2 linked regions of the Homo sapiens genome follow. The protein of the gene in region 2 purifies or fractionates together with the protein of the main gene of each other region. This does not show direct contact. Each region holds a gene or a part of one and is shown on either strand. Other genes may lie near its edges.

What was found.
Region 1: the proteins of CASTOR2 (region 2) and TRAPPC9 fractionate together in Homo sapiens (co-fractionation; one large-scale study listed by BioGRID). This does not show direct contact.

The regions. Positions count from the first base shown.
Region 1 is NC_000008.11:139,730,375-139,734,509, forward strand, and holds part of TRAPPC9 (trafficking protein particle complex subunit 9), read right to left. Parts: intron 1,829-4,135; coding exon 1,605-1,828; intron 855-1,604; coding exon 687-854; 3' UTR 1-686. UniProt on the Homo sapiens protein: Functions as an activator of NF-kappa-B through increased phosphorylation of the IKK complex. May function in neuronal cells differentiation. May play a role in vesicular transport from endoplasmic reticulum to Golgi.
Region 2 is NC_000007.14:75,016,107-75,021,152, reverse strand, and holds part of CASTOR2 (cytosolic arginine sensor for mTORC1 subunit 2), read right to left. Parts: intron 3,556-5,046; coding exon 3,362-3,555; intron 3,164-3,361; coding exon 3,031-3,163; intron 2,182-3,030; coding exon 2,058-2,181; intron 1,115-2,057; coding exon 1,004-1,114; intron 1-1,003. UniProt on the Homo sapiens protein: Functions as a negative regulator of the TORC1 signaling pathway through the GATOR complex. As part of homodimers or heterodimers with CASTOR1, directly binds and inhibits the GATOR subcomplex GATOR2 and thereby mTORC1.

The DNA of each region.
Region 1 (4,135 bases), on a different chromosome or scaffold from region 2:
CTTGCAGACATGGACACACACAGCCATGGTAACCAGACGCCACCCTGGGGCCAGGGAGCACCCAGAAACAGCCCTGGGCTGCCAGCCCAGGCCTGGACATTTGCCCACCACGGGTGGAGGGCCTCTCTTGGCATCAACCATCCACGACCTCCTACGGCACCATCTCTCCTGCCAAGTTGCCCATGGGGGTCTCCAGGAAGAAAACCAGCCTTGGGGGATTCCAAGGCCCAGGGAGGGTGGGAAGCTGCCCACGCCCTCAGGCTGTGCCCAGTCTCATGCTCACCATTTCTTTCTATGGCCAAAGGGAAGTCGCTGGACGAGGGAGGTCCCTCTGCTGGGATGAGCAGCACAGCACGGCTGGGGCCCCAGGTCACAGAAATGGGTGCAGGGATCCTGGGACCTGGGCTGGATGGGCACCCGCTTTGGGATTTCCTCTGCTTCAGCCTGTGTATGGTCCAGGGAACAGTGTAGGAAGGGGCGTGGCATGGGGTGGGGCTGCCATGTCCGGGGCTTCTGCGTAGCCCAGCAAAGATGCTACAGGAGGAACAGGAGGAGAGGGCTGGGAGGGGTCTGGGGGAGGAGGAGGAGATGGGGCTGCAGTGAAGGCCTTGCTCATTGCAGGGGGTGTGGGAGGCCAGGCAGGGTCACCTCTGGCCCTGCAGAAAGAGGGACGGAAGTAGGCGGGCTCAGGCCTGCGCCTCCAGGGCACACACGTGCACACTGGGCAGGCAGAACCAAGAGGGTGGCAGCTCCTTGCTGGTGCTGTCCTCGTGGAACCGGATGTGGAGGAAGAAGTCTCCCGTGTAGAGGAAGAGGAGGGCCCCGAGGCAGGCCGACTGGCCGGACGGCTGCACCTGAGCAGGGAGGAGAAAGACACATCAGTCTGGTCAGCAGCAGGGGCCACCCAAAGCCACCAGGAATCCTGGGAATCTGCCTGGACATAGGTGTTATGGGGGAAGCGAGGGCCGCCCAGGCCTGGCTCCAGTGCCCCCTCCAGCAGGTCACTGCGCCTCTCCGAGCCAGTTTTCATCTTGGAAAGGAGCTGCCAATATTCCCATTCCTGAATTGTTTGGGGGCTCAGGGGGTCAGGAGTGTGGGAGGGTCAGGAGTGTGGGAGGGAGTGAGGGAGAGGTTGGGGCAGAGGGGAATGGAATGTTAGCCTGTGCTGGGGCCTGACAGTGAGGTGCTGAGAGGCAGCTTGAGAGGTAGGAGGTGGGAGGTGGGGGCTGAGGGCGTAGGGCTGGAGCCTTTCCGTGGAAGGAGCGGCAGGCACGGGATGGGTGACAGTGACATCACAGTGATGCCACAGCAGGGTCCAATCATGGAGCAGCCCCCTGTCCTGGGCACAGCTCCCATTCCCTGCACATTTTCCTGCTTCACCAACCCTGAGGGCCTCACTGTCCAGGACTGAGAGACAGGTGAGCTTGTCTAAGTTCCTGCAGTGAATGGGGCAGACTCAGACTCAGTGTGCACACGTGACCACAGAACCCCTGCTGCTATCGTCTGCTGGACATATGCTGACCCCAAAGCCCACCACCCAGGGAAGGGGGGATGATGACCACATGGCCAGAGGCTCCCAGACCGCCTTGCACACCACCACGCACCGCGTCGAGGTAGAAGGTGCTGGAGCCCACGAAGGAGACGGTGTCGTGCAGGTCGTAGTTGTGCACGCCGTTCTGGTGGTCCTGGAAGGGGACCACAGTGAGGGCGAAGGGCCCTACGCTGCGCGGGCTCCGGTTGGTCAGCCGCACCTCCAGGCGCACGGGGTCGCCCACCTGGCAGGCCGCCACAGCCTCGCGGTCACATGGCTGTCCGTCCACCAGCACATCTGTAAGGGACACGAGACTGTCGGGGGCTGGGCTGGCCTGCACGGCCCAGCCGGCCTACCCCACCCACTCGCTGATTCATTCATTTCTTCCCTCCTTCACTCTTCAAGGCTGCCACCCACTCCCTGCCAGGCTGGACACTGGGGACACAGATGTGTGACCAGTTCCTGGTCTCCGGAAGAGGAACCTGGCAAAGACGGGTGTGGTGGCTAGAGCTATGACTCAAGGGGTCTGCACCCCAATGGAGGGGCCTCTGGGAGGGCCTCCTGCCACAGCCCACCTAGAAGGGGAGGAGCTCTCTAGTGAGTCAGGGACTCCTGTCCAGGTGAGAGTCTGACACCGTAGAGGCGAGGGCGTGGAAGGGGCCCTACAGGCCCTAAAGTGCCGCAGGTCAGGGGTCAGGTGAGCTTTGGGGCACAGGCAGGCCCGAGGTCCCTCTCCTCCAGTGGCTGCAAGACCACACACCCCAGGAGGTGGTGTCTTGATCTCGTTCCCCAGGAGGAATGCACAGTGGGCTCCAGCACTCCCTATAAAGTGGCTGCACTGTGTTTTCTTCATTCTGTCAGCCTGTCCAGGGTGCCTGACACACAGCTCAGCACAGAACAGGTGCTCAGGGAAGTGGCACGGTTCTGGGACCCGTGGACCCTGCCAGGCAGGGAGCTGGTCCTGGGCGAAGGAGCATGGATTCATCTCCTCTTCCCTTCCTTGCTTACATGCCCCAAGAGCTTGCAGACAAGGAGGACGCCTCCTAACTGGGCAGCAGCAAGGAAGGAGGCTGAGGTCAGGGTGGGGTGGGGGCGGAGAGAGTGTGCCCTCTCTCAGGGAAGCGAGCTGATGATCAGGGTGGCAGGTTTCATGGTGATCCCCAAAAGATACGTGAGAATGTGACCGTATTGGGGAAGGGGAGTCTTTGAAGATGTAATTAAGTGAAAGGTCCCGATAGGAGCTCATTCTGGATTAGAGTGAGCCCTGTAGTGAGTGACAATGTCCTTATATGGGGCAGAAGAGGAGGAAGCACAGACAGAGACAGAGGCTGAGACTAGAGGATACGGGCAGGAGCCAAGGAGCCCTGGGTGGCTGGAGCCCCTAGGAACTGAAGGAGGGAAGAATAAGCCCCCAGAACCTCCCATGGTCCTGCAGCACCTTGGTCTCAGCCTTCCTGCCTCCAGAACTGAGAACACACATCTGTTGTTCAAGTACCCAGTTTGTGGTCGTTCGCTGTGGCAGCCCTAGCAGGCTAAGATGTGGGGTGGGGGGCCCTTCCTGCTGGGCAAAGGCCACCTGCTGTGGCCCTGTTGTGGAGGTCCTGGAAGTGGGAGGTCCCGCAGCCTGCAATTTGACTTCATGTCATCCAAGTACAAACTGCGTGGCCCTGGGAGCCAGCCTGAGCCCCATGGTCTGCCGTGGCTGATCCTGTGCTGTGGGCTATCAAGGCAGGCAGGTGGAATAAGGATGACATGATGGTGACACGCATAGGGAGAGCAGGTGGGCCACAAGAGCACTCCCACCCCTTCTGCCCCTTAACACAGTCACGGGCATCCTGGGCCGGGCCTGGTGCCAGCACCCTGCAGCGGAGGATCCTGGAAACACCCTGACCCACAGCCCTCTGCCCTTGACCTCTGTTCTGTGGCTGCAAGGAGGGCCCTGTGGGGTGTCCTCACTGCAGCCTGGAGAGGAAGGTCCTCTAAGGACTGGCCTGCCTGGCTCACACGGTCAGGCCAGAGCAGGCAACTTCAGGTGTGGTTGGGCCTCCTGCTGTCCTGCCTGGGTTCCACTGCCCTCACACGCAGGTGAGGAGGAAAGCACCTTCTAAGACCCCAAGCCACTCTTTCGACCCCTGAAGAGGATGGGGGCAGAGGGGACAGGATATTGAAAGTCCCCACACCCAATTCCCAGCGAGTCCTGGCTCAGAGCCTCTAGGCCTGTCTCCTCTGCCATCCAGGGTCCTGGGTTCACAGGGAGGCTGTGGGGGCCTGGCAGGCAGCAGAGGATCTCGTGGCCAAGGCACAAGAAGAAGGACTCCTGGGACATCAGTGCTCTCCATAGCCCGTGTGCCAGAGAGGTTTAAGGGTACGCAATTCTGAAACATTCATGTCCAGTGCGTCCTTATTTTCTCATTTGAGAGAAGTCAGTGCGTGGCTTATGATAAGGAGATGAGGACATGGCCTGTGCTATTAGGGAGCCACCTGAATGTGGCTCGTGTCCACTGTTTTCCAGTGTAAGTGACTGATGCACACCTTTTTATATTGAGCTCTGTCTGAATTCTGAGTTTATGTTCCTGGAACAGTGAGGCAGATGAAATGGGTGGC
Region 2 (5,046 bases):
GGGTATGGTGGTGTGCGCCTGTAGTTCCAGCTACTCGGGAGGCTGAGGCAGGAGAATCACTTGAACCTGGGAGGTGGAGGTTGCAGTGAGCTGAGATCGCGCCACTGCACTCCAGCCTGGGCAACAGAGTGAGACCCTGTCTCAAAAAGTAAATAAATATTAAAAAAAAATAAAATAAAAATACAAAAATTAGCCAGGTGTGGTGGCAGGCACCTGTAGTCCCAACTATTCAGGAGGCTGAGACATGTGGATCACTTGAACCTGGGAGGCAGAGGTGGCAGTGAGCCAAGACTGCACCACTGCACTCCAGCATGGGTGACAGAGAGAGATCCTGTCTCAACAAAAATAAAAATAAAAAAAATCAGGCTGGTTGCGGTGGCTCATGCCAGTAATCCCAGCACTTTGGGAGGCCGGGGCGGGCAGATCACAAGGTCAGGAGATCCAGACCATCTTGGCTAACATGGTGAAACCTGGTCTCTACTAAAAATACAAAAAATTAGCCAGGCGTGGTGGCGGCGCCTGTAGTCCCAGCTACTTGGGAGGCTGAGGCAGGAGAATGGCATGAACCCGGGAGGTGGAGCTTGCAGTGAGCCGAGATAGTGCCACTGCACTCCAGCCTGGGCGACAGAGCGAGACTCCGTCTAAAAAAAAAAAAAAAAAAATCACGCCTGAGGCGGGCGGATTGCCTGAGGTCAGGAGCTTGAGACCAGCCTCACCAACATGGCAAAACCCTGTCTTTACTAAAAATACAAAAATTAGCTGGGCATGGTGGCACATGCCTGTAGTCCCAGCTGAGGCAGGAGAATTGCTTGAACCTGAGAGGTGGAGGTTGCCTTGAGCCGAGATCGCACCACTGCACCCCAGCCTGGGCGACAGAGCGAGACCCCGTATCAAAAAAAAACAACAACAAATAAAAGACAAAGTGGGTGATGTGCCATCACATAGTCCCCCCAGACCCTGGGGCCCACCCTGGGTTGAACGTCCACCCCAGGGCCTGGCTCACCTCTGCTGCGTCTGCACGTCCATCACCAGGGAGATGTAGCCCTCGATGAGGGAGAAGGAGAAGAAGCGGATGTGGCCGCAGTCATCCCCAGTGGCCATGGGGTCCTTCACTCTGGGGACCAGAGGCAGCTGGTAAAGATGGGGCCCCTGTGGCCCCTGCCCCATTCACACCAGCCCAGGGAAGCTGGGCCCTGCCCAGGCTTTGATGCCACCTGGGTGACCCTGGGCCAGTGTCCTTCTCATCCTGCTCGCTATGCCACGGGGATGATTTCACCGCATTCACAAAGGCGGGTGCTACACTTTGCAGTACTGGAGGCCCGGCCGGCCTCCCACGCAGGTTACACCGGCCCCTGCCTGCATCTCAGGGCACAGGCTGTGGTGACTGTCAGCATGCTGGACCCTGCCCCGCCCCACCTCGTGTTGGCCTAAACTTTACAAAATCTGCTGAGGAAGTGACACAATGTCTGTTGTTCACCAAATGAAAAAAATCTGAGTTCTCAGCTCCTCAACAGACTGGGCCTGTCCTCGGAGCTCAGTGGGGAGTGGGGAGTTTGTTACAGCTCCCAATGAGTCTTTGGGGCGTCACCAAATTTTGGGGTTCCCAGGGTAGGATGTCTCACCCCTGAGACTGGGGCTTTTAGGTAGAGCTGTGTCTCCCCCTCAGCCTAGTTCCAGGGCGGGTCCATGTCTCCCACCCCAAACTAGTTCCGGGGTGGGTCTGTGTCTCCTACCTCAGACTAGCTCCAGGACAGGTCTGTGTCTCCCCACTCAGACTAGCTCTGGGGAGGGTCCATGTGTCCCCCATCAGACTAGCTCTGGGGCGGGTCTGTGTCTCCTACCTCAGACTAGCTCCGGGGCAGGTCCATGTCTCCCACCTCAGACTAGTTCCAGGGTGGGTCCATGTCTCTCTGCTCAGACTAGCTCCAGGGAAGGTCTGTGTCTCTTCCCTCAGATGAGCTCCTAGCAAAGCCTCCCCCGTCAGACTAAGACTCCTAGGCGGAGCCATGCCTCTCCCTGGCCCACCCTGCAACCCCTCATGCCCAAGGCAGCCCTACCCATTGGAGTAGAACATGACATCCATGAGGAGTGTGGCAACAGCAGGCAGCGTGTCAGGGTCCAGGCTGGTGACACAGAACCTGTTGCTCGGGCTGGACAGTGGGTGGATGACTGGCCTCTGGACTGTAAGAGCACAAAGATGTCAGGCACTGAGGCTGGGACTGAAAGCAGCAGCTCTGGTGGGTGCAGGGCCTGGGAAGAGGGCTGGGGAGGGCTCAGCTGCAGGCCCCAAGAGACTCATTCACCGCTGCTTCTCCAGCCTCTACCACCAATTACCACCGTCCTGATTCTCCATCTCACCCTCAGGCCCCTGGGCCTTTGCACATGCTGTGCTGGCTGCCTGGGATGCCCTTCCCAACCGGCACCACCTGGCTCCGTTCCTACCTGTGTTCCAGGCTTCAGCACCACAGTCCCTGCCCAGGGAAATCCACCCTGACACCTGGGCTGCAGCAGGAGTGGCCTCTGGCCATTGCTGTCTGCATGCACGTCCACCACCCTTGCTAGACACGGCAGCAAGGCCTGCCTAGGACCTTTCCATCACATTTTTTTTTTTTTGAGATGGAGTTTTGTTCTTGTTGCCCAGACTGGAGTGCAATGGCACAATCTCGGCTCACCACAACCTCCGCCTCCTGGGTTCAAGTGATTCTCCTGCCTCGGCCTCCTCAGTAGCTGGAATTACAAGTATGCACCACCACACCCAGCTAATTTTGTATTTTTAGTAGAGACGGGGTTTCTCCATGTTGGTCAGGCTGGTCTCAAACTCCTGACCTCAGGTGAATTGCCTGCCTCGGCCTCCCAAAGTGCTGGGATTACAAGCATGAGCCACCACACTGGGCCCTTTGCATCCCGTTCTGCCTGGCACTCCATTCATGCTCAGTGGGCAGAAGCCCGTGCTGAGAGTAAGGCTGGTCTGCGGCTGGGCCTGGTAACTTCGTGAGGTTTCCCCTGCACAAACCCCCGCCCCCAGCTCACCCAGCTTGGGCTTCACGAAGCCATTGGTGATGCCGAGGTTCTCGGCTGCCACGGTCTCGCCATTGACGACCCGCAGGATGGTGAACTCTGATGACAATGTGTGGGTGACAAAGGGCAGGTCCCGCTCGCGCACCTAGGGGCAAGAAGTTGAGGCCGTGTGTGCCTGGTGGCCCTGGGGGATGTGGGTCTGGGGCACCGACCTCTCACCCTGAGACTCTGCCCCCACCCTGGAATAGCGTGGAAGGGCAAGGCTGCAAGGGGTGGGAGATGGGAGTGAGTGTGTCAGAGGCGGGCATGAGTGTGCAAGGCGTGTCTGTGATGGTCAGCTCACCAGGATGAAGTCTGTCTGATACGTGGACAGCATGAACACGGATATGTTCTGGTCAGCCAGTGGGGCGATGACTGACTTGGCGATCTTGGTCACGCCGATGGGCTGGGAGCTGGAGAAGCTGCCACCGCCGGACACCACGTTCAGGGCCAGCCAGGTGGCATCTGCCACACTCAGGTGCTCCGAGGAGGGCAGCTCTGGAGGGAGACACAGAAGGCAGTCCTGTGACTGCTGAGGTTCCAGATGACCCAAGGGCAGGGCAAGGCAGGCCAGAGGTGGAGAGTGATGCTCTGGGGCCAGCTCCACCCTGTGCCTTGCCTCACTTTCCAACAGGATTTTTTTTTTTTGAGACAGTCTTGCTCTGTCGCCCGGCTGGAGTGCCTGGAGTAGCGCGATCTCGGCTCACTGCAACCTCTGACTTCCTGGTTCAAGTGATTCTCCTGCATCAGCCTCCCGAGTAGCTGGGATTACAGGCACATGCCACCACGCCCAGCTAATTTTTGTATTTTTAGTAGAGACAGGGTTTCACCATGTTGGCCAGGATGGTCTCAATCTCTTGACCTCGTGATCCGCCCGCATCAGCCTCCCCAAGTGCTGGGATTACAGGCGTGAGCCACCGCACCCAGCCGGATGGGATTGTTTTTTGAGAGAGTCTTGCTCTGTCACCCAGGCTGGAGTGCAGTGGCGCGATCTCGGCTCATTGCAACCTCCACCTCCTGGGTTCAAGTGATTCTTGAGTAGCGGAGATTATAGGTATGCACCATCACACCCAGCTAATTTTTGTATTTTTAGTAGAGATGGCATTTTCCCATGTTGGTCTGGCTGGTCTCGAACTCCTGATCTCAAGGGATCCTCCTGCCTTGGCCTCCCAAAGCGCTAGGATTACAGGCGTGAGCCACTGCGCCCAGCCTTCAACAGGATGGGATTTGAATCAAAGGCTGCTTCCTGGGAGGACTGGGCAGGGAAGGCCCTCAGATGACACAGGACATCCCCGGCAGCTTAGCAGAGTAGGAGCCATGTGGGCAAGTGGTTGATCTGCACCGAGCCTCAGTTTGCTCAGCCGTAAAACGATGGCATCAGTAGTGGGTAATGTCCTTTAGTTCTTACAACCCTTTTGTGGGTCTGATGCTGCCATCACACCCATTGTCCCATGTGTAACTGGCTTTCAAACTGGGTTCCTGGATACCTCTCAGGGAGGCTCTGGGTGGAGGGGAGGCCAGGAAAAGGCTGGGTGGGGCTTTGGGGTTTCTCTTCCCCCTTCAGCCAGCCCTGCACATTGGGCTTCTCTGGAAGAAGAGGCAACTCCAGGAGGGCCCCTGAAGAGGCTGCATCATGGGGGGCAGTGACTGTCACCCATGTCCCTCCTGAGAGCCTGGAAGTCCCAGGGGCTGGCATTGGCTTTGGCAGGGTGGGGAGTCCACAGCAGCAGCAACTGCTAAGCCTCCTTACCTAGCTCATGAAAACCCAGAATCCAAACGCTGGAGCCATCCCTTCCACCCTGTCCTGCAGACAGAGACCCTGAGTAGCCCTGAATGTGGGACACAGGCACACACTATGTGTGACCACACACAGCTGCAGACTCGAGCCCAGGCTGCATTCGGGGCTCTTCATACAACACCAGGCACCTGCATAAACCCACCTAGTGCCAGGCCCTGAGTGGGGAGGGGGCACGGCACAGGGAGGTGAAC